Linked DNA regions of Homo sapiens. The protein of the gene in region 4 purifies or fractionates together with the protein of the main gene of each other region. This does not show direct contact. Each region holds a gene or a part of one and is shown on either strand. Other genes may lie near its edges. The genes, in order: RAP1GDS1, TMT1B, RPS6KA2 and IRGC.

Region 1 (7,021 bases), on a different chromosome or scaffold from region 4:
TCAGGGCTATTTTGGAGAAAGGCGTTTAGTTAAACATTTACCAGCACCCCTCTAATTATCATTATTAAAAATTATAAAATGAGTTTTATTTTGAACTCAATGAGTTTAATTAGTAGAGATGTCTACTAATCTGCTAAATACAAAGATGTAGCCCAGATATTAATAAATATATTTCAGTACCAATAAGTACCTAAAGTCATTTTGTGAACAAAAAGGACTTTGGAATTAACAAGTACTGTTGACCCTTGAACAATGCAGGCACTAGGGGTACCAATCCCCCTCTCACTCAGTCAAAAATCCACACATAACTTTTAACTCCCTAAAACCTTAATAGCCTAATGCTGACCAGAAGCCTTACCAATAACATAAACAGTCAATTAACACATATTATGTATGTTATATGCATCATATACCATATGCATCAAATACCATATTGTTACAATAAGGTAAGCTAGAGAAAAGAAAATGGAAGGAAGAGAAAATGTATTTACTGTTCATTACATGGGAAGTGGGTCATCATAAAGGTCTTCATCCTTATTATAGTCACTCTTGAGTAGGCTGAGAAGAGGAGGGGTTCATCTAGCTGTCTCAGGTGTGGCAGAGGTGGAGGAGGTAAAAGGGGAGGCAGGAGAGGCAACTCACTTGGTATAGCTTTTATTGAAAAAAAAAAATCCACATGGAAGTGGAACTGCGCTGTTCAAATCCATGTTATTCAACGGTCAACTGTACAGCCAATCATAGCTAAGAGCTCAATTTAACCACTTCCATTTATCACTAACCTAGTCCTTGGTTTTAACTCCTGAAATGCTTCTAGTTACAAAAGCTATATAAATAGAAGCACTGAGAGAATTATTTCACCTGCAATTTGAATCCAGCATCCATATCTTAGCCAGCTTGAGAAATGTTTTTTTAGGTCATTTATTCAGACAAAGCTAAAGTTGGTTCAAACCCTTAAGTTGCTACCTCAAGTATACATTACCATTTGAACACTAAAGAAAAACAAGTTATATAGAGGTTATATTTAAGATACCAATGATATGGAGTATATTTCAAACTTCAGTTTCAAGGAATCACAGGCTTTTATAACTGAAATAGTCTTTATAACTATATGGTTTGAATGTTTTTGTCCCCTCCAAAACTCATGTTGAAACTTAAACACAACAGTACTGGAAGGTAATGGGAGGTGTTTAGGTTATGATGGCTCTGCCCTCATAAATAGATTAATGGCATTATAAAAAGAGCTTACCAGAGTGGATTTTCTCTTTTGCTTTTCTGTTGTGTGAGGGCACAAGGTTTCTCCTCTTTGGAGGACACAGCAACTAGGCCTCATCTTGAAACCAAAGACCAAACCTGCAGGCACTTTGATCTTGTAGTTACCAGACTCCAGAACTCTGATAGAATAAATTTCTGTTCTTTATATATTACCCAGTCTGCAGTATTCTGTCATAGCAGCACAAAATGGACTGAGACAATAACCTATTCTAATATATTCATTTATTATTTACATCTAGGTAAATACAGATTGAGTATCCCTTATGCAAAATGCTTTAGACCAGAAGTGTTTCAGATTTTGAAATTATTCAGATTTTGGAATACATGCATGATACTAACTGGTTTAACATCCCTAATCCAAAAATCTGAAACCAAAAATCCAAATGCTGCAATGTGCATTTCCTTTGAGTGTCATGTCAGCATTCAAAAAGTTTCAGATTTTGAAGCATTTCAGATTTTGAATTAGGGATCCTCAACCTGTATTTTTATTTTATTTTAGCTACTGAGTTGTATGAGTTCCTGATTATTTTTACGTGTTAACCCCTAATCGGATATACGGCTTGCAAATATTTCCCCTCATTATGTAAGCTGCCTTTTCATTTTGTTGTTTCCTTTGCTACAGAGAAACTTATTAATTTGATGAAGTCCCATTTGTTTATTTTTGCTTTTGTTGCCTGTGCTTTTGGTGCCATAAACAAAAAATCATTGCCAACACCAATCTTATGGAGCTTCTCTCCAGTATTTTCTTGCGCGCATCTTATGCTTTTCAAATTCAAATCTTTTGTTTAAATCTCTGACCCATTTTGAGCTGATTTTTGTATATGGGATGAATAAGGATCCAATGTCATTCTTCAGTATGTGGGTATCTAGTTTTAACAACAGTGTTTATTGAAGAGATTGTCCTGTCCCCATTGTGTTTCCTTGGCTTTTTTTTTTTTTTTTTTTTTTGAAGATCAATTGACTGTAAATTCTTGGGTTTATTTCTGGCCTCTCTATTCTGTTCCATTGATCTATGTGTCTGCTTTTATGCCAGTACCATACTGTTTTGATCACTACAGCTTTGTAACATGACTTGAAGCATGTAGTGTGATGCCCCTGGCCTTGTTCTTCTTGCTCAAGATTATTCTGGCTATTCAGATCTTTTGTGGTTCCATACAAATTTTAGAATTGTTTTGCTATTTCTGTGAAAAGTTTCACTGGAATTTTGATAGGGATTACATTGAATCTGTAGATCACTTTCAGTACTATGAACATTGTAACAATATTAATTCTTCCAATTTATGAATATGGGATATCTGTTAATTTTTCAAATTCTTTCATCAATGTCTTACAGTTTTCAGCATAGAGATCTTTCACCTTCTTGGTTAAATCTATTCCTAAATATTTTATATTTTTGCAGCTACTGTAAATAGGATTGTTTTCTTGATTACATCCTCAGAAAGTTTGCTGTTAGTGTATAGAAATGCTTCTGATTTTTCTATGCTGATTTTGTATCCTGAAACTTTACTGAATTCATTTATTAGGACTAATAGTTTTTGTCTTTTTTTTCAAGGAGTCTTTAAGGCTTTCTATGTATAAGACCATGCTATCTTTAAACAGATCATTTTACTCTCCAATTTGAATGCTTTTTAATTTCTTTTTCTTGTCTATTTGCTCTGCTAGGACTTCTAGTACTATCTTAAATAGCAGTGGCAAGAGTGGGCATCCTTGTTTTTTTTCTCAATCTGAGATAAACTTTTCAGATTTTCACCATTAAGTATGATGTTAGCTATGGGCTTGTCATATAGGACCTTTACTATGTTTAGGCATATTCATTCTACACCAAATTTGTTGAGAGTTTTAAAAATGAAAGTATGTTGAATTTTGTCAAATGCTTTTTCTGCATCAACTGAGATGATCGTATGATTTTTGTTCTTCATTCTGTTAACGTGGTGTATCACATTTATTGATTTGTGTATGTTCAACCATTCTTGCATCCCAGGGATAAATCCCACTTGATCATGACGTATGATCCTCTTAATGTGATGAGACTGCAAATCAAACCACAATGAGACACCATTTCACACCAGTCAGAATGGCTATTATTAAAAAGTAAAAACAAACAAACAAAAAACAGATGCTGTAAGGCTGTGGAGAAAAGAGAATGTTTTTACACTGTTAGTGGAAATATAAATTAGTTCAGACACTGTGGAACGCAATTTGGAGACTTCTCGACGAACTTAAAACAGAACTACCATTTGACCCAGCCATCCCATTACTGGGTATATTTCCAGAGAAAAATAAATCATGCTACCAAAAAGGCACATGCTCTTGGATCTTCATCGCAGCACTATTCACAATAACAAAGACATGAAAACAACCCAGGTGCCTATCAATAGTGGATTGGATAAAGAAAATGTGACACATATATACCATGGAATACTATGCACCCACAAAAAAGAATGAAATCATGTCCTTTGCAGCAACATGGATGGAGCTGGAGGCCACTATCCTAAGCAAATTAACATAGAAACAAGAAATCCAAATACCACATGTTCTCATTTATAAGCGGAAGCTAAGCACTGGGTGTACATATGGACATAAAGATGGGAACAACAGATACTGGGGACTACTAGAGGGGGACAAATGGAGGGAGGCAAGGGCTGAAAAACTACCCACTGGGTACCATGCACACTACCTGGGTGATGGGATTATTCATACTCCAAACCCCTGGGTGATGGGATTATTCATACTCCAAAGTGTCACATAACATGCCCATGTAAAAAACATGCACATGTACCCTCTGAACCTAAACTAAAAGTTGAAATTATTTTAAAAAAGGAACTAATACCAATCCTCCTCAAACTCTTTCCAAACAATGAAGGGAAATACTTCCAAACTCATTTAATGAGGCCAGCATTACCCTGATACCAAAGCCAGACAATGATACTACAAGAAAAGAAACTACAAGCTAATATCCTTAATAAACATAAATAGAAAAATCCTCAACAAAATACTGGCAAACTGAACTCAACATCAACATGTATTTTAAATTAAACTTTTTCCTTATCAGTTATCCAAACATTTGGCTATCTAAAATTACATCAGGTTCCCAAAGGACTGAATCTTCCTCCTTCATTCCTCCTGATGTTCATGACTGGATATTAAAATTTAGGTAATTCTGATGGCTGTTGTTAGTGCCACCAATAACTCCAGAATTGCTATGTTCAATCTCAGGTTCAATCAGGAATTTCTGGAGAGCATCCACACTATTTCCCCAAAGTCACCTAGAAATTCCAAGATTCCACTATGAAAGCAAAATCATTTTGGTTCTTAAAAAGAGTTAAGGCTATTATAATTTTTCAAATAGTAGTAGTACAGACTTCAGAATATGACTACCAAGGATAGTGAATTCAACCTTTCTCCCATATGAAAAAAGACATATACAAAACAGATATAATGCCAACATAAGAAAAATTTTTAAATTTACCAAGCTAGCATCTATGCTTTTTTGAAATCATAAATTTTAGTAATTACCAGCTTTCAAAAATATTTTATCACCCTGCCTAGACTTGCAAAGATCAGGCAAAATTAGTATTTATTATTTAGCTATGAAAACCATTCCTGGACTTGGAAATACAGGCAAAATAAAATGACTATAAGTTTGATACCTATCTACAGAGAAAACTACAACTCCAGGAATTAAAAATATAATTAGAAGCATACCTATAATCTAAAGAAGTCTCAAATTCACAAAGTCTAAGAGTAAAAGTGATAAAACCATTCATCAGTAAAGAGTATTGTTTAGGCAAAATGCCATGCAAAATTATAAAATCATTCTAGACTCACTCTGCATGACAGACATTATAAAAATAAAAATTGTACTATACTAAGTCACAAAGACATTAAAAATGAAATGTCAGAGAAATGTGAGGCACTATGGTGAAATTAAAAATTATCCTTAGACATGAAAACAGCACATGTCCTTCCATGTAAAATGTAACATTAAAATAATTTTTTTAATTTGTAAATTAAAATACATTTAAAATTTTAAAATATTTTCTAAAATGTAATATCTGTCATGCAGAGTGAGTTAAAAATATTTTTAAAAATCTATGTTTTCTCACAGATCTTTAAACAAGGTGAGAAATACAGCATGACTATACCTAGTGAACTGTTTCCACTTATTATTCACTTAGCCTTTACAACTGACCTCCATATCTACTAAACCTCTTAAAGTGGCTTTTTAGAAAAATATACTGGGTAATATCCTAACCAAAGCACTTAGAGCCTGTTCTCAGTCCCTATCACCCTCCTGACTGTTCTGAAAAAACAGACCTTATTAACTATTCACTCTTTCTTAAAACCAACCATATACCAATTCTAGTCTTTCACTCTGACTTCTGTGTTTTTCAGTGTGAAATCATACCATTCCTTTTTCCCTAACTACGGAAAACTTAAGGAACCCCATTCCTCAAGATTCTTACCATGAACAATTTTCCTCTTTTTCTTTGTTGACTCTTGTCCTCTGATCTAACTTCAAATATCACCTCAGGATATTTGTGGATAACTTCCAGATCTCTAATTCAAATTGTACTCTCGAAAGTTAAAATAAATGTTTGTCAACTATTTTTTATCTAGTTTCAGTCAGTCAACACAATTTTTCTATGTAGCTACTATGTGCCAGACACTAGTGTTAGAAATGTATTCAAATCCTAATATGACAACGTCCTTGTTATCAAGGAGCAGAGACTAAAGGACAGACCAAAAAGTCTAATGCAATAGGTCCAAAATTGAGTATCTAAGTTTCCTCTTCCTGTTAACTGAATATGTATCAGGAGATTCTCGTATCCTCATTATCACCCAGGCTAAAACCTGTGACTCTCAATTCCATACTCAATGGGTTGCCAAGTAAATCCTATTCTTTATTTGCAATATTCTATTCCCGTTGCCATAACCTGGTTCAAGCCATTAAACATTTTCGTCCAAACTCCAACAACAATCTTCTGAAGTGTTCTGTAGTTTCTCATCTAATCGATCCTGCACTCAACTGACAAATTTTCCTATACCACAGATGTGATCCATCACTTAACTACATAAAAATGTTTAGTGGTCTCTCAATAGGTAAGTCAGATTAAAATTCTTCAGCTTGGCATTTTAGATCCTACATTATCTGGTCATTAGCTATTACTGTACTACTTTTTCATGTCTGTTACCCACTATTTCCTTACCTTTTGCTCTAGCCAAACAATGCTGTTTAATCATATCCTGGAAATTCATAAAATGTTTCCTATCTATCTTCATTTATGTCATTTCTCTTCCAACCCCAGACCAACTCCATTCTGATTAACAGTCTCATTTCTACCTTTAAGAAGTTTAACCCACCTTTGGTTCAAATAACACCATTTCTCTAAAACGTTCTCTCCATTCTCTGAATCTATAATATATGTAAAGGTCTTTTATATAACTTATACTTTTACTTCTATTATAATTTGTGTATGTGTCATATTGTTCCTGCTAAGATTATAAATGTGAAACATGAATATCTTTTTATCTTTGTCCTCCCAGTACACTGTAGTACAGTACACTGCACAGTTGATATCCAACAAACACTAAATGTATGTTGAATCTGAAATATGACATATACATAAAATAGTAGCTATGGCCATAAAGTTATATAGGACTTTTCTTTCACTCTCTTGTGTAGGAAATTATTGCCATGAGAATATATATATATATTTTTTTTGAGACAGAGTTTCCCTCTTGTTGC
Region 2 (7,323 bases), on a different chromosome or scaffold from region 4:
GTAACAGGACCCCAAGGACCTGCCTCCCCGGAAGTGCCTTAACCTAGAGGGTCGGGGAGGAGGTTGTGTCACTGACTCAGGCTGCTCCTTCTCTAGTTTCCCCTCTCATCTGACCTTAGTTTGCTGCCATCAGTCTAGTGGTTTCGTGGTTTCGTCTATTTATTAAAAAATATTTGAGAACAAAACCTCTGCCTCTTTGAGTCTTGCTCTGGCATCCCCAGCATCTCTGATTCTCCCTGGTGCCCCCAGCTCAGGAAGAAGGTGGTAGTGGGGAGAGAGGGTCAGGGGGGCTTGGCAGGGATGCAGGCACCATGACTTTTGTGACCAGTTCCTAGAGACGCATGGGTGTAGCCTCAGGAGGAAAGCGAGAGGAGCTTTACCATGGGAACGAAGGAAAGGGACAACATTGGGAGGCAAACGTTGGGAGACTAGTCCAGAAACTTGCAGTTGAGGATACAACAGGGTCCTAGTGTTTCCTCCCTGGGTCAGCGTAGAAGTAGAGCTTTTTCACTGTCGAAGGCGGGATTGAAGTTAGAGATTGCCCTGGCAGAGGTTGGGGAGAGAGGGACTAGTAGGTGGTACATGAATGTCTTCTCTCATTCTGCTAGGTCCCTCTCAGTGGAAGATAGATAGGCTGGTGGGTGGCTTGTTCTAATTGGAGGCTGGGGAAGGAGCAAATGAGTGCCTTGGAGCTTGGGAAAGATTATTTGACAGCCTTTCCCATGATGTGGGGCCCAACAGGTAGCCACTTCAAGGGAGGGGGCTGTCGTTCCATTTGGATTTCGGAGAACTGGGCGTTCTCAAGATCCTTCCAGGTCTCTCTGGTGAGGCAGCAGCCATCCCCAATGTGTTTCCAGGTGGGCTCGAAAACTTGCTGCCACATGAAGGCCCAGCTTCCATATGGTTCTGCCACATGCTCCCAGAAAAAGAGCACACCTCCCTGGGAGGGATGAGAGAGTTAGTGTCACTTGGCTCCATTCTGACCCTGCTCCCTATCGCGCTGATCAAGACAGTCAAACTTCTTGGTGAAATGGGAGCTGCTGGTCTGAGAGTTCATGGAGCAAACTGTCGTGCCCCTGACCTTTTCTGCATCCCCTGCTACCGCCTTCAAAGTGCATGTGAAGAACCTCATAACTGAAAGGAGTGGCTGGTGGGAGATCTTTAAAGCCTGACCAGAATAACCGAGGGCATGCAGAAGGGGAAACTGAGAAACAGGAGTGGAGGGCTCATTGTATTATTATTATTATTATTATTTTTTGAGACAGAGTCTCAGTCTGTTGCTCAGGCTGGAGTGCAATGGCGTGATCTCGGCGCACTGCAACCTCCACCTCTCAGGTTCAAGCGATTCTCCTGCCTCAGCCTCCCAAGTAGCTGGGATTACAGGCATGAGCCACCACGCCCGGCTACTTTTTGTATTTTTCAGTAGAGACAGGGTTTCACCATGTTGGCCAGTCTGGTTTCAAACTCCTGGCCTCAAGAGATCCACCTGCCTTGCCTCCCAAAGTGCTGGATTACAGGCGTGAGCCACCTCGCCCAGCTGGGCTTATTGTATTCTGAGATACACGCACAACCTCTCTCACAAAACCCAGATGCATGCACAAGCTGCTTCCTGGACATCGCTGTGAACATCCCAGGGAAACCTCAGGCCCAACTCTTGACTGAAGCTGGGGTTCCTCAAGCTCCTCGCCTCACTATACTCTCCCTAGGTGATCTCAAACCTAGTAAGTCCAAAACAGCTTTCTTCCATCTCAGCAAATGGCACTTTTCATCAGCTCTCCCCTCAGTTGCTCATGCTAGAAACCTGGAAACTATTCTGAACGTTCTCTCCACAGTCTGATGGATTCTACTCTACTTCCCCTACTATCTTTACCTAGAACACTCTTTTATTTTCCCCACCCCGTCCACACTCTGCTTAATCCCTCAGATCTCTCTCTCTCTCTCTCTTTTTATTTATTTATTTATTTTTTTTGATACAGGGTCTCACTCTGTGGCCCAGGCTGGAGTGCAGTGGTGCGATCATAGTTCACTGTAACTTTGAACTCGGGCTCAAGTGATCCTCCCACCTCAGCTTCCTGAGTAGCTAGGACTATAGGCATGTGCCACCACGCCTGGCTAGCTTTTGTATTTTTTTTTTTTTTTTTTTTTGTAGAGACGGCATCTCACTATGTTGCCTTGGCTGGTCTTGAACTCCTGGGCTCAAGTCATCCTTCTGCTTCAGCCTCCCAAGCACAGATCTCGATTTAAACCTCAGTTCCTTAGGTGTCCTCCCCACTCCCCTCCCTGTCCCATGGTGGTAGGTGATCCTCCTGTTGCTTCCACAGCACCCAATTGTGCCCCGTCATGGCACTGGTCATGTCTCCTATTCACCAGCAGGTAGAGGTGGATGGGGTGTCTAATGTGCTACTTACTACCTCAGACGCCCCATTCTGGGGGCCGAACCCTGGGGCGGCTGATGCTGCGTTTGCCTGCCCCACACCCATCCCCTTCCCACCCTGCTTACCGGTCTCAGTACTCTCCGGACCTCCTGCAGGACCTTCCTTGGGCTCTGCACAGAGCACAGCACCAGAGTGCAGACCACCACATCCATGGAGCCATCAGCCAGCTGTCTCATGTCCTCTCCAGGAGCCACCACAAACCGCTCATATTGGAGGTGCCTGTTCTCAGCCATGCTCTTTGTCAGGAACTTCTCAAAGTGGGGATTTGGGTCTAGGCAGGTGACCCTGCAGCCCGGTGGGTAGAACTGAAAGTTGGCTCCGGTTCCGCAGCCCAGCTCCAGTAGGGCCACTTTCCCGGAGGCTCCTGTAAGCCCCTTTATCTGGCTGAAGAGCTCCCGTTTCTTGCTCTCCATCTTGCGGTTGCTCTTGGGAGTCAGCACGGCCATCAGGTAGGGGAAGTAGCTTTTGCACAGGGGCTGCCAGCAGCCCAGCAGAGCCATGAGGTGCAGGGGCAGGGTAAGAAGCAGCACCAGCAGCTGCAGGAGTGGGACCAGGATGTCCATGGCAGACCAGCTCTGAGCTGTGCTTCCGCTGGGGCACTGGCTTTTTCCCTGCTCAGCCTCTGCAGGCGCTGGCGTCCCCTCCCGCTGTGATAGGACTTTGCTCCTTGTCTCCTACTTGACAATTTCCTATTTGCCAGAGTTGAGTGGGTGTATGGAATTCCTCCAGAGGGCGCAGGTCCCACAGCCCCACAAGCTCTTCAATGACTTTTATGTGGGCGGAGGGACAGGTGGTACCCATGTTCCTGAGTTCTGGGGCACTGTGCCCAGCTGAAGGGGGGCAGGGGCTGCTGAGTCATCTCAGAGGGAGTGGGAAGGGGTAAGGGGATATGTTTCAGATGACAGACTCATGGCGGGGGAGTGTCGGGGGCTGGCAGGGCGTTGGGGGTGGGTTGGTAGTGGTGAATGCTGGGGACAGAGTTGACTCATGGGACATATCCTGGCCTCATTTCGTCCTCAGGTCAGGCACTTCAGAGGGGCCATAGGAAGGGAAGGGTGCTCTTGGCAGAGGAAAAAGTAGGTGTACAGGACAGAGACAGCATGCCCTCTCCTGGAAAGGGTGAGAAGTTTAGTTCTGTGGGGAATGGGGTAAGTTGGACAAATAGGGGGAAGTGAGGTCAGAGAATAGCCACTTTTTAGAGATCCTTCCCTCCCTCCCTCCCTTCCTCCCTTCTTTCCTTCTTTCCTTTTTTTGAGACAGGGTCTCTGCTGCCCAGGCTGGGGTGCAGTGGCAGCAGTCTGGGCTCACTGCAACCTCAATGTCCCTAGGCTCAAGTGATCCTCTTACACCAGCCTCCTGATTTTCTGGGACTACAAGTGCATACCACCATGCCCAGCAATTTTTTTTTTTCTGTAATTTGTAGAGACAGGGTTTCACCCTGTTGCCCAGGTTGGTCTTGAACTCCTGGGCTCAGGTGATCCACCCACCTCGACTTCCCAAAGTGCTGGGATTACAGTTGGGAGCCACTGCGCCTGGCTGAGAAGAATTCTTTTTACAAAACATTATTAAACAACTTTTTTTGGAAGAGGCAGTACATTCACTTAGTACAAAATTAAAAAGATACTAAAGAGATTACAGGGAAAATTCTCTCTTCTACTCCTGTGACCCAACCACTCAGATCTCCTCTCTGGAGGCACTAAATGCCATATTGCCAATTTCTTGTGAATCCTTCCAGAGATGACCTGTGAACGAGCAGGGAACACACACACCACGTGTTTAGATCCATGTACATATATACATATACATATTCCCTTTTCTTTTACAAATAGTAGTATATTGTACACACTCTTGTATACCTTGCTTCCCCCCCTTCTTAACAATGTATTGGATTTAGTAGATAATAGCAAATGGGTTTCCAAAGTGATTGTACCCATTTACACGTCCACCAGCAATATTTGGTTTTATGTGTCTTTTATGTGTTCATATTATTATTGATGCATAGATTCCTATTTTATTCACTGATTTGTAACCTAATACCCTATTTATTTATTTACAGTTTCTTTGAGGTATAATATATATAAGAAGGTTTACATATTTACAGTATATAGATTATTTTTGACACAGTATATACCTGGGAAACCATTACCACAGTCGAGATAATGAACATGTCTATGTGTTAGGCTTTTGCATTGCTGTTAAGAAATACCTAAGGCTGGTTGATTTATAAAGAAAAAAAGTTTAATTGGTTCATAGTTCTGCAGACTGCACAGGAAGCATGGCACCAGTATCTGCTTGGCCTCTGGTGAGGGTCTCAGGGAGCTTACAATCATGGTGGAAGACGAAGGGGAGCAGTGTATCACATGGCAAGAGAGGGAGCAAGAGAGACCTTGCGTGAACTGCCAGAGCGAGAACTCACTCATCACCAAGGGGTTGGCACTGAGCCACTGATGAGGGGTTGGGACCTCAGGAGCCAAACACATCCCACCAGGCCCCACCTCTGACATTGAGGATTACATTTCAACATGAGATTTGGAGGGGACAAACATCCAAACTATATCAGTTTCCTTGTGTTTCTTTGTAATCCATTCGCCCCTCTTTCATCCCCATCTTCAGGTAACCGCTGATCTGCTCTCTGTCAGTATAGATTAATTTCTCTTCTCTTCTCTTCTCAGGCAGAGTCTCACTCTGTGGCCCAGGCTGGAGTGCAGTTGTTTGATCTTGGCTCATTGCAACCTCCACCTCCCAGGTTCAAGTGATTCTCCTGCCTCAGCCTCCTGAGTAGCTGGGATTACAAGCATGCACCACCATGCCCGGCTAATTTTTGTATTTTTAGTAGAGACGGTGTTTCACCATATTGACCAGGCTGGTCTCAAACTCCTGACCTCGGGTGATCCGCCTACCTTGGCCTCCCAAATAGTTTGCATTTTCTGGAATTTTGTGTAAATGGAATCCTATAATGTATGGGATTTCAGCATCTGGCTTATTTCATTCAGCATGTTTATTTGGAGAGTCATCCATGTTGTACATGCATCCGCAGTTCATTTCCATTTCTGAGTAGTATTCCATTGTATGGATATACCACATATATTTTTATCCATTCACTTGTTGATAAACGTTTGGGTTGTTTCCAATTTCTGACTGTTAGAAATAAAGCTACTATGAACTGTTTGTGTACATGGGTTTGTGTGGACGTATGCTTTTATTTCTCTTGGGTGAATACCTGGGTGTGTATTTTGATGTTCAAATTGCCCTAGATTTGGCTGGGGGAGCACCTGCAAGCTGGCTCCTGTCTCCTTTTGACACAACTCCATCACTCTTTGAGCATTTTCTTACTTTCTGCTACAAGAAGATGTTCCAGGCTCATCTTGTATTTCCCCTGCTCCAGCCCCGAACTTAGTTATTTCTCAAAGAAGCACTGGTCTTTTGTGAGGAGGATGGTATTTAAAAACCAAGATCTGAATGCTGGATGTGATTATCACTGGGGAGTAATTGCTCCTGGGCCTGCTCCATGGACACAGAAAGAGGCAAAGTAGTATTATCCTGTGCTTTTTATTTGCTCTTTTCTTTTTCTTTTCCTTTTTTTTTTTTTTTTTTCCTGAGACAGAGTCTCACTCTGTCGCCCAGGCTGAAGTGCAGTGGCACTATCTCGGCTTGCTGCAACCTCCGACTCCCGGATTCAAGCGATTCTCCCTCCTCAGCCTCCCGAGTAGCTGGGATTACAGGCGCATGCCACCACACTTGGCTAATTTTTGTATTTTTAGTAGAGACAGGGTTTTACCATGTTGGCCAGGCTGGTCTCGAACTCCTGACCTCAGGTGATCCACCAGCCTCGGCCTCCCAAAGTGCTGGGATTACAGGTATGAGCTGCCGTGCCCGGCTTACTTACTCTTTTCTGCGTGAGGTTGAATTTTTGTTTCTTATAATTAAGAGCCTCTGTATTTCCTTTTCTAGAAATTTTCATTTTATTTTTTATTTTTGAGATAGCCTTGCTCTGTCACTCAGGCTGGAGTGTAGTGTGCGATCACAGCTCACTGCAGCCTCAACCTCTCAGGCTCAAGCAATCCTCCCACCTTAGCCTCCTGAGTAGTGGTCACCACAGGTATATGCCAACATGCCCAGCTAATTTTTCTTTTTTTTGAGACGGAGTCTTGCTCTGTCACCCAGGCTGGAGTGCAGTGGCATGATCTCTGCTCACTGCAAGCTCTGCCTCCCGGGTTCATGCCATTCTCCTGTCTCAGCCTCCCGAGTAGCTGGAACTACAGGCGCCCGCCACCACGCCCGGCTAATTTTTTTTTGTATTTTTAGTAGAGATGGGTTTTCACCGAGTTAGTGAGGATGGTCTCGATCTCCTGACCTCGTGATCCACCCTCCTCGGCCTCTGAAAGTGCTGGGATTGCAGGCGTGAGCCACCATGCCTGGCCAGACACACATATATATTTTTTTAAATTTTCTTTTTTTAATTACACTTTAAGTTCTAGGGTACATGTGCACAACGTGCAGGTTTGTTACATATGTATACATGTACCATGTTGGTGTGCTGCACCCATTAGCTGGTCATTTACATTAGGTATATCTCCTAATGCTATCCTTCCCCCCACCCCACCCCACGACAGGCCCCAATGTGTGGTGTTCCCCACCCTGCAGATACACAGATTTTCAATTGTGAGGGGTATCAGTCCCCTAGGTCCTGAGTTGTTCAAGGGTCAACTGTACAGCCATGTGCTGCATAACACATTTAGCTCAATGACAGAGCACATATATGATGGAGGTACCATAAGATTATTATGTAGCTGAAAAATCCCTGTCCTGTAGTGATGTCTTGATGATCCTGACCTTGTGTAGACCTAGGCTAATGTGTGTCTTTGTGTCTTAGCTTTTAACAAAAAAG
Region 3 (7,680 bases), on a different chromosome or scaffold from region 4:
TCTTTGTATATTTCAAAATATAAATTTCACAGAAACAATTTTAAAATGTTTCCTATTATAAAACAAGTTATCTTTCTCATTCATCCACACAGAGGAAATACACATCTGTGTTCAGTACTTTGTGTCCTATTTCTCAACCTCAATCCATTGACAGACCTCCCCTGCTCAGTTTTACATTTTTTGATGAGTGCTTCTTGGCCTATAACCAGCTGTGAACACACAAACGAACAGGCAGCCTTCTCAAGTATGGGTAGGGCGCAGAAGAGGAACTTACTGGACTGGGGCACAAAGTCAGCTGCTTGTGAGACTCATCACTGGGTGGAAGTGCCCTGAGGCCAGGACTTCTATGTCTCGTGTCTTTTTGGACACAGTATCCAGAAAAAGACCAGCCCAAGACCCGGTCCTCCATAAACACTTGCAGAATGAATTCCTTGGAAAGCTTTTAACAAGACTCTCAAACTCTCAGGGTTTCTTCCCCTTAGCAATAGAATGAGGAAAGTTACATATGCTACCCCGATTTTCACAAGTATCAAATAATAGAAAGCTGGGGAATGCATTTGTAAAAAAGAGAGCATTGTATTAGCATTGACCTTTTTTTTTTTGAGACAAGTCTCGCTCTCTCGCCAGGCTGGAGTGCAGTGGCGCAATCTCGGCTCACTGCAACCTCTGACTCCCTGGTTCAAGCGATTCTCCTGCCTCAGCCTCCTGAGCAGCTGGGATTACAGGCACGCGCCACCATGCCCAGCTAATTTTTGTATATTTAGTAGAGATGGGGTTTCTCCATGTTGGCCAGAATGGTCTCGATCTCCTGACCTCATAATCCGCCCGCCTTAGGCTCCCAAAGGGCTGGCATTACAGGCATGAGCCACTGCGCCCGGCCATTATTGACCATCTTAGTGAGACCTCCAGCACCTAGTACGGGATCTGGCACACAGGAAGCACTAATTGACTACTTGCTCTTAGACTACATGTATTTTCAGCCCATTTGACCTCCTACATCGCTGATGGTTTATGTATGACTTCTAGAAATTTTATTTCTACATGGAAGAAACCTCGTTTCCTATTCCCACCACCCCCCCACCCCCCCCCCCGCTTGTTTCCCACTGTATTCTTTCCGGAGGCACGCCTGCAGCCCAGCCCTCCTTGCAGAACCCTGTGACACCAGAGGCGTGTGTATCCAGAATCAGGCAGATTCCTGAACTCCCACTGGTCAGCCAGTGTCTAGTGCTGCTCTTCATAAACAATGCCTGGAGTGTGCTCACACGTGTACCTCTTCTTGGCAAAGACAGTAAATGGAAGGAGACAAGGAGTTGTCTAATAAACTTGGCATTGAGATGAAACAGGAAACAAAGACATGTATCCGGATAAAGATAAATACTGTTCTGAGTTTCTGATCTTGTCAACTTCAGATTTTTTAAGTGCCTGTGTCCCAGGAAAATGATTTGCCTCACTGGTGTGCTTCATTTCTTTCAATATTAGACTTAAAAGCAAGCCCTCCTCCAGTACTGGATTAACAGTTTTGTTTGAAAGATGTGTTTTACCCTCGGGAACCGGCCATACTGATCCTATCTAGTACTTCCAATTCTGATTTAGGGATGCCATAAGAGAAACTTTTTAAACAAGTAATTCTCTTCTACTTTTTTGTCTATTCCTCAGGTCTCTCAATGGTTACAGAACCCATGTCTGTGTCTAATATCATGGCAGCTGGGACAAAGAAAACCAAGATGAAACATTTGAGATTGTTCCAGCTGAAACAAACCAACCAAAACCCCACAGGTGCCAGCCTTGAGGCAAAGGCGGGACAGTGTCAGGCGAAATCTTTGGGTCCCAGCCTCAGTCTCCCCATCACCATGTCTTTTTCACTTAAACACGTTTCACTGTTTTGTCATCTATAGATTCAACAATGTGATTTGGACACTGGGAATAAGAGAATAAGATTTGATGGTTGAAATAAAACACACCACGAGAGAACCGTCCACAAGGAAACTCTAAGATGCCAAGATGCGGGACAGGTAGAAAGGACAGGGCTTTGGGAGTACTCTGGGTTTTCAGGACGAATCTGTATCAGCCTCGGCGCTGCGAGGATATTGCATCAGGCTCTTTACTCCTGAACGCCGTTTTAGACGCCTAAGCAGATTGTGCTGCTGCCTGTTCTTCCCCGTTCTGTGAATTCTACACTGACTTCAAGTGCACGAATGAGCTACAAGATAAGGTGGAACCTGCCGGCCGGGCACGGCAGACAGCACCTGATCAGCGCCTCGGAGGGCGGAGCTGGGGGGCTTCTCCACTCGGGACTTTGAGGGACCCCCGCGGAGCGCTCCGCGCCACTCGGCGGTCTAGCTGCAGAGAAAGCCCCTCCTCACCCGGGGCTCCCTGTGGCCCACAGGGGACCATCCCACACCCCGTGCAGCCAGCGGCGGAGAAACCAGCTGGAAATGCAGTGGGGGTGGAGTTGCCCCCGCGAGGACCCACGGACCGCCCAATTACTACGGAGTCCCAGCGATAACGTTTGGAGCCGTTTGGTTCGATTTTCGGAACCGGACCAGCTTTCCAGTAACTTGAACTCCCTGACGGGTCTCGGGGTCCACCCAGGGGTGGCGAGGCGGGCTCGGGCGACCACGGCCCGCTCAGTGCCCGGCACCTGCGCGCCCCGAGGGCGGCCGCATTACCTCGAGCCGGCTCAGGCTGGAGCTCTTGGAGCGCGACTTCCTGCGCAGGTACACAGAGAAGAACCTGCGCACGGCGAACTTCTTCATGCTCAGGTCCATCGCCCCGCGCCCAGCCCGGAGCAGCCGCAGGGCCGGGGGACGCGCATCCCCGGCATCCCAGGCGCGGGGCTCAGGTCCGCGGGCGGGCACGCGTGGCCAGGGAGCCCGGCACGGCGGCCATGGGCGCGGGGCGTGGGGCGCGAGCTGCGGTCACAAAGGGCAGGCCGCGCCGGCCACCGCGGCCGGGGCCACAATCGCTCCCTCCGCCTCCTTCTCCGCCTCCCCTGCGAGTACCAGCGCCGGCCACGCGCCACGCCTACACCACGCCCACCACCACTACCACCAATCAGCGCCCGCCGCTCCGCGCCCCGGCACGCACACCTCCTCCTCCTCCGCCCCGCCCCGCCACTACGGCCAATCAGCGCTCACCACCCCTCCCGTTCCCACCCACCACCAGCACTGCCAATGAGAGCCCACCGCCCCGCCCGGGAGAGCCCCGCCTCTGCCGATACCTCCAATCATCAGCGCCGCCCTGTGGTTCCAGGTGCCCATCCCTCCTCCTCTTTCTACTCCTTCCTACAAGAACCAGCTCCGTGCAGCCCCGCCCCCACGCGGTTCCGCCCACGGCCCCGCCCACAGCACTGCCCGCCAATCAGTGCCCGCAGCCGCCGCATACCTAATGAGCCTCGGCCCGGGACAGCTCCCGGCCCGGGCGAGTTGTGCAGCTGCTCCGGAGCCGCGCAGTCGCGGGCGTTCCTGTCACGCAACTTCGGCCCGGCTGCTCTTTCTTCCAGCTTGGGGCCGTCATTATGTTTTCCTTCCTTAAAACATCCCTATGCACACTTTGTCATCATGTTTTTCTCTGCCGAACCAAACTTTAATTGTTGATCAGCAAACGCAGCCAAAACCTCAGCGGCACAGCGAGCGAGGGACCGCCGCCTGCCAGCGGGCCCTGCAGCTCGGCCAGGAGCCGCCCTCCGCGGAACCGGCGCCTTCCCTCCGCCGGAGCGGACAAAGGCGCCCGAGGGCGGGGGCTCAGGCAGCCCTCGGGGCGCCTCCCTCCCGCGGCTGCAGAACAAAGACGCATCCGCCCTCCGCAGCCGGTCCCGCTCTAGGAAACGTCTACACAGATGGCTTATCAGGGCCCGCGCTGGGAATACCCGGGCGGGGTGACCTGGGTCTAGGGCAAGGCCCTCAGACCCGCTGCTGGCGGCAGCGCCGCTCGGGATCCGCCTTAAAGGGAAACACTTTTTTCTTTTTTTTCCTAGAAATGCTCACCAAGGGCTGCAGCAGGGCCGAGAATGCGGGCTCACGACCCCGTGCAGCCTGCTCTGTTTTCCTCTTGTGCACGTGTTGAGTTTGTATTTAAAAACAGGGAGAAACCGAGCCCATTGACATAGCACCATCACCACCTGCAAAGAGCAGAAACGAGTGCGGTGGTGAGTTGACAAGTCTTGCTTGCTCTTTTGCAGTGCGAACTGCAAAATCCTCGCGTTGTTTTGCTCCCTGGACTAGTCAGATGTTGCGTTAATACTTGTGTAGTCTATTTTGGCTAAGGTGGGTAGAGAGGTCAGAATGTCCTTAAATAAGAGCTTTAAAGTCATGCTGCATCCGGGCTGAGGTGAGGTCAGATAGGCTCTCTGGGTTTCCTGGAGACCCGCGTTGAGCGGTGCTGCTCCGGAGTGGAAGCCGGGAGTTTAGCACCACGACTCTGGCGCTGCCCCTTCCTTGCTTGGTGAACTTGGGTGCCGTTGCACGTTGTTCCCACGACTCATCTCTAAGAGGAAAATACGAGTGAAACCTGTCTCACCTCCCTTACTGGATACCAAGAGGCTTATGCAAGATCACGGATGTGGGAGTGCTTTGTGAATTTAAATAGTGCAATTGATTTTCATATTATGTATTAAAGGATCTATAATGACTATTCTTTAAAAACAGAAGTGCAGGACCCCACAAGGACACCAAACACCACTTTTTGCTCCTTTTCAAGATGGTGTGCCAGTTAAGTGCCCATGAAAACTGCTTTGCCTGCTTCCTTTAAGGTTCTGCTGGGAGGGTAGTAATCTGTGCTCTCAGAACCAGCCTCTTAGTGCCCTGTATCCCTGCTGGGACCCTCAGGCATCCTGGCTCTAGGCAAACACAAAGACACTCTGTACCCAGCACGGGAAGAGGTAGATGGACCTCCAACTGGACACAGACTCCGGGAATGAGGGAGGACCAACCCGACCATGCTTCCCTCGGAAGGGGAGCCAGTAATACTGGCCGGAGACAGGAGTGCTGAATGCCACCTATACCAACTCATGGGCATCCTGTTCAGGACAAAAGCCCCAAGGCAGGCAGGCCTAAGTCAAGGCTTGTGTTGTACCAACAATAGTATTTTGACCTGATCTGACAAAATTGGAAAGGAAATATTTCATGGGACATTCATTAGTTCCCCAAATTTGAAGGCAACAAAACTGTTCTGTTGAACTTGGGAGGGAAAATCATTCAGATTTCACTGGAATTCATTGCTAGAACAATAAATCTGTTTGCCTTTGTTTTTCTCCTGGTAAAATACACGTATACCAAAATCTCTAGTGATCATGGAACACTACTTCATGTGATTATGTAATGAAATCCTCCAAAACCACTAAATCTAGGGTAGGTATAATATCAAGACCCACTGTAACCGAAATCCAAATTATCCTTACCAAATACCAGAAAAGAAAGTGAACTTGATAAAGGCTCTTGCCCAGATGATGGAATGGGAGAGGACTGAAGAGAAGATAAAGAGCTTGGTAGACCTCTGAGTATCTCACATTTCCTCTGACTCAAGCACAGTAAGTTTGAGACTGAATTCCGTGGTGACTGCTGCTTCTATGAGTACCAGATTAGCTGATGTGTGGTCAATGCAATTCCACAAGTGATTATCGAGCACTAACATCTGGCACTGTGGTGGTCATTTGTGACACAAAATGATTACAACATCCCAAGAAGTTCACAGTCTTATGGAAGAGAAGGTGAGTGAACAGACAAAGCTCATGCCGTTTTTATGTAAAGTGAAAGAAATGCGTAAGAGATGAATGAGAAGCCAATTCTAATTGGCGAAGTCAAGGAGGAGATGGCCTTTGCTCTGAACCCCTGAGGGTAAGAAGATGAGGGAATAAGTTTCCTGGACAGACAAGAGGAGGCGGGAGTCCCAGGCTGAGGAATAACAGGGCACTGTCAGGCAGCTGTGACAAGGTTTCCCATCTCTCCCTGCTACACAGGCACCTTGTGGGTAAGGCTGGTGTGCTCTCTGCATATGGGAAGATGCCACATTCTCGGGGCACCCCACAGGAGTGGCTTGAGTGACATCCAAGAGCTTCTAATTAGTCAAGTACCACAAATGTCTGTTCGTCTCCAAACAGTCCTACAGGCTGCTGAAAGTTTCAAGCTTCTAAAACTCCCACATATTTTCAATAAAACGCTAAATTGCACTTCAAGTGAAACTATATATCTTTAAAATAAATTGAAACATTCGGTCTTCATTAGGACTAAAGTTTTGCCATGGGAGGTGAATTCACTAGGTTCACCTGATGCAAAACTTCACCAGGATCACCAGGGTCACCTGGTGCTGGCCATCTGCGAAAGCAGGAAGTCGTGCTTTTCCGGAGTATCAGCATTCGAAGGCTCTGCCCATCACAGGCATCCTGCTGGATGCTCCAGAGACAGTGTCCAGCCAGTACGAGGGAGGGAGGTGGGCTTCAGTGTGTGCCCCTGTGAACTACTTCCTGTGGCTGTGATACAAATGGGTTTAGTCAAGCTTCCCTTAGTGTAGTCCCTGAGTGTACAGAAAGGAATCCTTTTCCTGGGCTGTGGATCCCCGTGTACTTGAAATGTTTATGACTTTGAAGTTTCTTGAATGTAGGAATTAGTCCTTGCTCAGGAAGATGGTCTTAAAGTCCTGAGACCCTAGAAGGTAAACTGTAGTGGACAGTTCAGGTGGGGGCACGTTCGGAGCAGGTGTCAGCAAGGGGCCTGGAGCTGTCAGGGAAGGGCTTCTTGGGCCCTCGGCAAAAGTCAGAAGGGATCAAGTTTGCCTCTGGTCTCTGGCTGGCCCCTGGCCCTCACCCACAGGACACTTGGGTCTCATTCACATCTGGGTGCCAACCAAGCCATGTCAGAATGACACCTGTGCCCTCAGTTTAACAGTTTAAAATCTCTGAGCATATCGAAAATTTAAAAAGAAAGTCTTAATGCGTAAAAGTCTTCAAAATGACAGAAATAAAGCTCTAATGGTGAAGTACCAGGAAATGGAATTTACATTTGAAACCAGAGGGCCTGGTTTCTGAGTAGTCAGGAGAGGCAGGTGGAAACCCACAGGCCAGTTGTACTTGACCCTTATTGACTGGCTTACATTTAGGAAGAAAAACCACATTGGGTTTCAAGCTGTGGAAACCATCATGGTTGGCTTCCTCCCTCCCCGCTGGAGCCCTCATCCCCCATCCAACCTGGGTAGGAAGGCACAGGGCTCACAGAAGGTGGGCTTCACCTGCAACACCTCCCCCGCCAGCCCGCTGTGAGGACAGCTTTGGATTTTATTGGTTTTTAAATACTATGTTCCTTCATACCACTTTCTTTTGAAACCCATTTATAAACCATAGGGCCAGAATCTACAGAGAGGCTGATCAAATAACTTTCCTGGTAACACAGATTTTTTTTCGTCCCTCTGCCTGGGGCACTCTGGTGCCTTCCATGGTGTCAGCGGAGCACGGCTGGAGTCATGACTCCCAAACAGCGAGAAGGGAGGGCCCTGCCTCAGTGAGCCCTTTTTCTCTTTGAGACAGTGGAACCCAAGAGATAGATGCGAACACACAGAGCAGTCATAGACACAGCGGAGCAGAGACAGACCAGAGAGAGGCTGCGCGGCAAACGGAGCCCAGACAGGTGGCACCTCAGGGCAGCACCAGTATCAGCTAAGGTGTAAATGCCTCGAAAAGACCTAAATCAA
Region 4 (7,465 bases):
AGGTCCTCGTCCACCTTGGTGCGCACAAAGTAGAACTTCTTGCCCTGGCACAGGATCTCAGCGGCCAGGCGGGTCTCGACGGCCCCGCAGCGGCGGGGGGAGACCAGCAGGAAGAAGTCATAGCGGCTGAAGTCTACCTGCTTTAGGTACTTGTCAGCCGGGCAGCCTGGAGAGCCGGCTCCTGGCAGGTCCCAGAGGGTCACGTCAGGGAACTGTGGGTGTGGATAGGGCGACGGTTGCATCGTGGTCTCCATGACGCCCGTGAGAGCCGCGCCAGGGTCCTCGGCCTCCAGGCCACGCAGGGCATTGATGAGGGAGGACTTGCCCGCGCCCGACTCGCCCGTGACGCCCACCTCCAGGCGGATGCTTTCCGTGGAGGCCAGCAGCTCCTGGAGGTGAGAGGCGGCCTGGGGGAGGTCACCCGACTCAAAGGCTGTGCGCAGGGCCTCCAGCCTTTCCTTGGCCATAAGGATGGTGTTTTCCTCCTCCCCAGGCACCACGGGCAACTTTGAAGTAGCCATGGTGGCCAGTGGTTCAGAGGGTGGCGGGGGACAGGGGAGAGTCACAGGATGCGTGATCCTCAGCGCCTGCAGAGGAGAAGGGAGCCATTCACACCTCCTGGGCCTTGGCATGGGGCAGGGAGAGACAGATACCACGGATGTGAAGGGAGTCGCCCTGGAAGCCCACAGCTCTCTTTTTCCTTCAAGAATTGGGGACACATTTTTGGCACAAGTTAGAGGGCTTTGGGGTCTGGCAGGCCCAGGTTCACATCCCTTTTCTGCCACTAACTTGCTGTGTGACCAGGGGCAAAATGAAGCACCTCTCTGGGTAATGGGCATGACCACCAAGCAGCCTCTTGGAGCACTATTGGAGTCTCCAGGGTAACCTAGGCACAGGTCAGTTTTCTGGGTGTATGTGTGCCCTGGAGGGTTCTGTGCTTAGAATGGCCCAGTGCTTGGTTTAATGCTCTGCTGACACTAGCTGAAATTGTTTGTTTGTTTGTTTGTTTGTTTGAGACAGGGTCTCTCTGTCATCGAGGCTGGAGCACAGTGCTACGATCATGGCTCATTGCAGCCTTGATCTCCTTGGCTCTAGCAATCCTCCCACCTCAGCCTCCTGAACAGCTGGGACCACAGGCGCATGCCACCATGCCCAGCTACTTTTTAAATTTTTTGTAGAGATGGGAGTCTCACTATGTTGTCCCAGCTGGTCTTGAACTTCCGAGATCAAGGTCCTCCTGCCTCAGCTTCCCAGAGCGCTGGGATTAAGGGCATGAGCCACTATGCCTGGCCTGAAATTCTTTATAATATTTGAACCAGGGGCCCCATATTTTCATTTCGTACTGGGCCTTGCAAATTATATAGCCAGGGCAAATTACATAGCCAGGGCTGCATAGGAAAGGGTGGTACAGGCCCATTCAGAGGAAACAGCTGCACTCCTGCGGTGGCTGGGATTGGAGGGTAGGGTGGAGGGGACCCAGACCCGGAGCCAGACTGCCTGGGATCAAATCCTGGCTCCACCACATACTTACTGAGTGATGTGAGGCAAGTTACTTAACTCTCTCCTCACTCTCCTCATCTGAACACTGAGAATGATACCTACAATCCTGGCAAACCACCTCCTAGGATCTCTGTGACTTGAATGAGTTATGACATAAAGCAGCCCATAAAACGGCGCCTGGCTCAGGGCAGGTGCCTCGTGTCATTGGCATCACCATCATCGTCATTATTCTTATCATTAGTAATATTCTTAGCTGTGTGACTTTGAGCAAGTCCTCGCCCTGTCTGAGCCTCAGCTGCCCCGTGGGGGATACTCCTCCCCACCTCGCAGGGCTGCTGTGATGCCCACAAACCCCGTTCAGCTAGCCCTAGGCTGACTTTGGGTTCAGACGCCCTTGGGTTCGGGAAGCCAGACATGGGGACCACCTGGACACCAGGAGTCATTTCCATGAAACCCCACCCCTGCCATGGCAGCCCTTGCCTCCCGGGGTTCAGTTCCCCTCCCACCGCCCAGAGCTCCTGTCGTGATGGTCCCCCCTCAGATCCCTCCTCCTCACCAGGAGCTTCCCTGGTCCTCCCTCTTCCCACTCACCCTCCTCTGGCCCATCATCTCTAAAATACATTTACTCACTAAGGGTCTTCAGGGTGCCCTGGGAGAGCTGCTCATGTCTGGGATCACTGTCCCCATTTGACAGGGAGAAGGACTGAGGCTCAGACAAGACAAATGAGGTCTCCTCATCCAGAGGCATAGCCAGGACCCCAACCCAGGTCCCCAGGCTCCTTCACCCACCTAGAGAGCTACTCTCCCTTCAGCTGCATGTCCCTGCCTCCTGCATTGTCTCCTTGCCCCCTGCACCCCGTCTCTTCACCTCCTACCACTCACCCCATCCTCTGCTACCCCACTCCACCCCCCACAGAAATATGTCCTTAAGACATTGTTCCCGGCTGGGCATGGTGGCTCACGCCTGTAATCCTAGCACTTTGGGAGGCCGAGGTGGGTGGATCACTTGAGGTCAGGAGTTCGAGACCAGCCTGGCCAACATGGTGAAACTCCATCTCCACTAAAAATACAAAAATTAGCCAGGTGTTGTGGCGCATGCCTGTAGTCCCAGCTCTTGAACCCAGGAGGCGGAGGTTGCAGTGAGCCAAGATTGCACCACTGCACTCCAGCCTGGGCGACAGAGCGAGACTCCGTCTCAGAAAAAAAAAAAGGAAAAAAAAAAGACATTGTTGCCTCCAGATCTGAGCCTCCTATCCTGGGTGTGCCCTCTCCCTAGTATGGTCTGCGGTGGGAAGAGTAGGAACCTGGAACAGGTCCTGGCAGCAAGGGGCAGACAAGTCAGTGGTTGGAATTTGGGCTGAGGGGGTCCGGATTAGACCATAAGCTCCTGCTCCGCCCACGCACAGGGGCCCAGCGAGAGAGCCCTGGGGGACTCACCTGCCCTGCAGGCTCTCCCTCTCCCCTCACACTCTCCCCACTGATAGGATCTCCTTCCCTCTTAGCCAAGGTCAGACACCGTTGCTAGGACCCATTATCATAGCAAGCAGCAGCTTATTGGTCAGCCAGACCTGGTGCAATAATGCGACAGTGATGTCAGGGGGTGGGGCCCGGAGGTGGAGCAGGGACCCCAAGCCCCAGCTGCTCATGGGGTCACCACCCACTCACACTGGGCCCTCCAGTTCCCCTGAAGACTCCAGAGAGATCTTTCTAACACCAAGACCTGTTCAAAATCCTCCATGGTCTCCATCACCCCCCAAGGACAAAGTCTCAGATTCACAGATTGGTTTCCAAGGGCTTGGCCCTGCTACCACTCCACCCTCCACCCAGGGGACTGTCAGTTCCCCAGAGAAGTGTGAAAGTTGATGATACAAATTCGGTCATTGCTGGTGGGCACAGTGGCTCACGCCTGTAATGCCAGCACTTTGGGAGGCCGAGGCGAGTGCATCACTTGAGGCCAGGAGTTTGAGATCAGCCTGGGCAATGTGGTGAAACTCCATCTCTACTAAAAATACAAAAATTAGCCAGATGTGGTGCATGCATGTAGTCCCAGCTACTCGGGAGGCTGATCTGCTATCTTGTAAGCCCAATAATTTAGTCATTGATTTCTTTTTTTTCTTTTTTTGAAACAGTGTCTTGCTCTGTCACCCAGGCTGGAGTGCAGTGACACAATCTTGGCTCACTGCAACCTCCGCCTCCTGGGTTCAAGTGATTCTCCTGCTTCAGCCTCCTGAGTAGCTGGGACTACTAGCATGCACCACCAGGCTTGGCTAATTTTTTTTTTTTTTTTTTTTTTTTAGTAGAGGTGGGGTTTCACCATGTTGCCTAGGCTGGTCTTGAACTCCTGACCTCAGGTTATCCGCCTGCCTCGCCTCCCAAACCTCCTGACCTCAGGTTATGCCGCCTCCCAAAGCGCTAAGATTACAGGTGTAGCCACTACACCCGGCCCCTTCTTGTCCTTTATAAGTGTCTCTGTCCTGTCTCCCCTCCGGGCTTCCTCTCTGCCCAGGCCAGGCTCCACAGGGCCTTCTCCATTCTCCTCTTGTAGGGAATTTACAATAACGCTACTCAGAGGATTTTCCTGACCATCTGCAGGCCAGTTCTGGAAAGGAGCCTCTGAGAACAACTAAGGAGAGAGAGGCCCAGAAGGGGAATAGACTAGCTCAGAGCCACCCTGAGAGCTGGGGAAGAGTGGGCTGTTGGCCGCATAGTACAGAGTTCTTAAGCCACAGGTGAAAGGGAGGTGCAGGGCAAAAGACACACGACTCACTCATGCTCTCACTGACTGACACAAACACACAGAGCTGAAGAGAGTGAACAACATGGTTCTCAGACTTCCCCGGACACCGAGCACACAGACCAGCAGACAGCAAGGACTCCTTCCCAAAATGCATGGACACGCACCCCTGGCCCAAGAGAGAAGGGAAAGACACAGAAAGAGCCTCAAATACAGAGTTACTTCGTGGCTGGGCATGGCGGCTCACTCACGCCTGTAATCTCAGCAATTTGGGAGGCCGAGGTAGGAGGTTTGCTTGAGCCCAGGAGGTTGAGACCAGCCTGGGCAACATAGCAAGACCCTATCTCTTTTTTTTTTTTTTTTTTTTGAGACGGAGTCTCGCTCTGTCTCCCACGCTGGAGTGCAGTGGTGCAATCTCGGCTCACTGCAAGCTCCGCCTCCCGGGTTCCTGCCATTCTCCTGCCTCAGCCTCCCGAGTAGCTGGGACTACAGGCGCCTGCCACCGCGCCTGGCTAAATTTTTTTGTATTTTTTAGTAGAGACGGGGTTTCACCGTGTTAGCCAGGATGGTCTCGATCTCCTGACCTCGTGATCCGCCCACCTCGGACTCCCAAAGTGCTGGGATTACAGGCGTGAGCCACCGTGCCTGGCCAAGACCCTATCTCTTAAAAAAAAAAAAAAAATGAGCCAGGTATGATGGTGCACATCTGTAGTCCCAGCTACTCAGGAGGCTGAGGTGGGAGGATTGCTTGAGCCCAGGAGTTCAAGGCTGCAGTGAGCCGTGATCATGCTACTGCACTCCAGCCTGGGTGACTGAGCAAGATTCTGTCTCTAAACGAAACAAAACAACAGAGTCACTGAAGGAAAGCAAGACTCAGACAAACACACACTTACCAAAGCCTCGCAAACACACACATTCCGGGACACAGATGTGCAGACTTTAAGAGACACAGTTACACACTGACAACATATACAGAAACCCCGAAACCCACTGACTCCATTCAGGAACCTCATTCATTCTGCTGCAGCAGCTAGGGCTCCAGAGATGCATCAAACCCAGGCACTGCTTCAGGGGCTCCAGGCCCGAGAAAATGGAGATTATTGCAGCCCAGGATGATTGTGGACCAAGAAAGAGAGCCACTGCCACCTGCACACATGCACCGATGCAGACTGGCATGTTCCCAGGGATGCCCCTAGCAGCTCCTGAGAGCACCAGCCAGAGAGAGAGGGGTTGCACCCTGCCTATCTGCATGCTGGAAACGCAGCAATGGACAAGACAGCCAGGCTCTGCCCCCACAGGACTCAGAGTCCAGTGGTGGAGTCAGATCCATCCCAAGATAATGATGACAGAGGGGGCAGCACTGGGATGGGGGACCCCAGAGGGCTGTGGGAGCACAAAGGAGGAAGCCCGACTCAGCCTGGGAGTCAGGGAGGGCTTCCTGGAGGAGGGGGCACCTGACCTGAGATCCAAAGGATGAGTAGGAGTGAGCCAGATGGCACATTAGGGAGTTGCATCCCAGGCTAAGGGACCAGCCTCTGCAAAGAACCTGAGTTGAGAGAGAACTTTCATTCGTTCAATAATAAACTCAATTTCAGGCACACCTCATTTTATTGCATGCAGCTTTATTGTCCTTCACAGATACTATGTGGTATTTTTTGCGGGGGGGCGGGGATGTGGTGGAGAAGAGGGTCTTGTTCTGCCACCCAGGCTGGAGTGCAGTGGCGTGATCTCTGCTCACTGCAACCTCCACCTCCTGGGCTCAAGCAATCTCTACTACCTTTGCCTCCCAAGTAGCTGGGACCACAAGCACGCGCCACCATGCCCAACTCTTGTTTTATTTATTTATTTATTCATTTATTTATTGAGACGGAGTTTTGCTCTTGTTGCCCAGGCTGGAGTGCGTGGTATGATCTTGGCTCGCTGCAACCTCCACCTCCCAGGTTCAAGGGCTTCTCCTACCTCAGCCTCCCGAGTAGCTGGGACTACAGGCATGCGCCACCATGCCCGGCTTGTTTTGGTATTTTTAATAGAGATGGGGTATTGCTATCTTGGCCAGGCTGGTCTTGAACTCCTGGCCTCAAGTGATCTTCCCGCCTTGGCCTCCCAAAGTGCTGGGATTACAGGCATGAGCCACCCCGCCTGGCCTGATACTATGGTTTTTACAAATTGAAAGTTCGTGGCAACCCTGTGTCCAGCAAGCCCGTTGGTGCCATTTTTCCAACAGCACGTGCTCATTTCATGTCTCTGTGTCACATTTTGGAAATTCTCACAACATGTCAAACTTTTTCATCATCATTATCTCTGGTATGGTGATCTTTGATGTTAGCATTGTAATCATTTCGGGGCACCATAAACTGTGCCCACAGGTAACAACAAACTTAATTGATAAACATTGTATGTGTTCTGACTGCTCCACTGACTGGCCATTTTCCTGTCTCTCTCCTTCTCCTTGCACCTCCCTCTTCTGTGAGACACAACTATAATGAAATTAGGCCAATTAATGACTCTAAAATGGCCTCCAAGTATCCAAGTAAAAGGAAGAGTCACGTGTCTCTCACTTTAAATCAAAAGCTAGAAATGATTAAGCTCAGTGAAGAAGGCGTGTCCAAAGCTGAGATAGGGGCCAGGCATGGTGACTCACACCTGTAATCCCAGCACTTTGAGAGGCCGAGTTGGGAGGATCCCTTGAGGCCAAGAGTTTGAGACCAGCTTGGGCAATATCGTGAGACCCCATCTCTACAAAAAATGTTTAAAGTTAGCTGAGTGTGGTGACACTTGCCTGTAGTTCTGGCTACTTGGGAGGCTGATGAGGGAAAATTGTTTGATTCCAAGAGTTCAAGGTTACAGTGAGCAATGACTACAACACCGTACTCCAGCCTGGGCAACAGAGCCAGACCCTGTCTCAAAAAAACAAAAAGGCCGGGCATGATGACTCATGCCTGTAACCCAGCGCTTTGGGAGGCTGAGGCGGGTGGATCACTTGAGGTCAGGAATTTGAAACCAGCCTGGCCAAAATGACAAAATCTCGTCTCTACTAAAAATACAAAAATTAGCTGGGCGCGGCGATGTGCACCTGTAATTGCAGATACTTGGCAGGCTGAGGCAGAAGAACTGCTTGAACCTGGGAGGCGGATGTTGCAGTGAGCTGAGATCATGCCACTGTACTCCATCCTGAGTGACAGAGCAAGACTCCATCTCAAAAAACAAACAACAACAAAAAAAAGACTTCAG

The links.
Region 1: the proteins of IRGC (region 4) and RAP1GDS1 purify together in Homo sapiens (affinity purification with mass spectrometry; 2 studies listed by BioGRID and IntAct, with this or other methods). This does not show direct contact.
Region 2: the proteins of IRGC (region 4) and TMT1B purify together in Homo sapiens (affinity purification with mass spectrometry; 2 studies listed by BioGRID and IntAct, with this or other methods). This does not show direct contact.
Region 3: the proteins of IRGC (region 4) and RPS6KA2 purify together in Homo sapiens (affinity purification with mass spectrometry; 2 studies listed by BioGRID and IntAct, with this or other methods). This does not show direct contact.

Annotation. Positions count from the first base shown.
Region 1 is NC_000004.12:98,264,373-98,271,393, reverse strand, and holds part of RAP1GDS1 (rap1 GTPase-GDP dissociation stimulator 1), read right to left. Parts: intron 1-7,021. UniProt on the Homo sapiens protein: Acts as a GEF (guanine nucleotide exchange factor) for the Rho family of small GTP-binding proteins (G proteins) that stimulates the dissociation of GDP to enable subsequent binding of GTP.
Region 2 is NC_000012.12:55,677,430-55,684,752, reverse strand, and holds TMT1B (thiol S-methyltransferase TMT1B precursor), read right to left. Parts: upstream 3,018-7,323; 5' UTR 2,999-3,017; coding exon 2,501-2,998; intron 941-2,500; coding exon 704-940; 3' UTR 142-703; downstream 1-141. UniProt on the Homo sapiens protein: Thiol S-methyltransferase that catalyzes the transfer of a methyl group from S-adenosyl-L-methionine to alkyl and phenolic thiol-containing acceptor substrates.
Region 3 is NC_000006.12:166,624,252-166,631,931, forward strand, and holds the start of RPS6KA2 (ribosomal protein S6 kinase alpha-2), read right to left. Parts: upstream 3,001-7,680; 5' UTR 2,769-3,000; coding exon 2,670-2,768; intron 1-2,669. UniProt on the Homo sapiens protein: Serine/threonine-protein kinase that acts downstream of ERK (MAPK1/ERK2 and MAPK3/ERK1) signaling and mediates mitogenic and stress-induced activation of transcription factors, regulates translation, and mediates cellular proliferation, survival, and differentiation.
Region 4 is NC_000019.10:43,711,615-43,719,079, reverse strand, and holds the start of IRGC (interferon-inducible GTPase 5), read right to left. Parts: upstream 3,005-7,465; 5' UTR 2,938-3,004; intron 2,204-2,937; exon of another isoform or gene 2,131-2,203; intron 701-2,130; exon of another isoform or gene 633-700; coding exon of another isoform or gene 522-632; coding exon 1-521. UniProt on the Homo sapiens protein: Required for sperm motility and therefore male fertility, via positive regulation of spermatozoa fibrous sheath formation.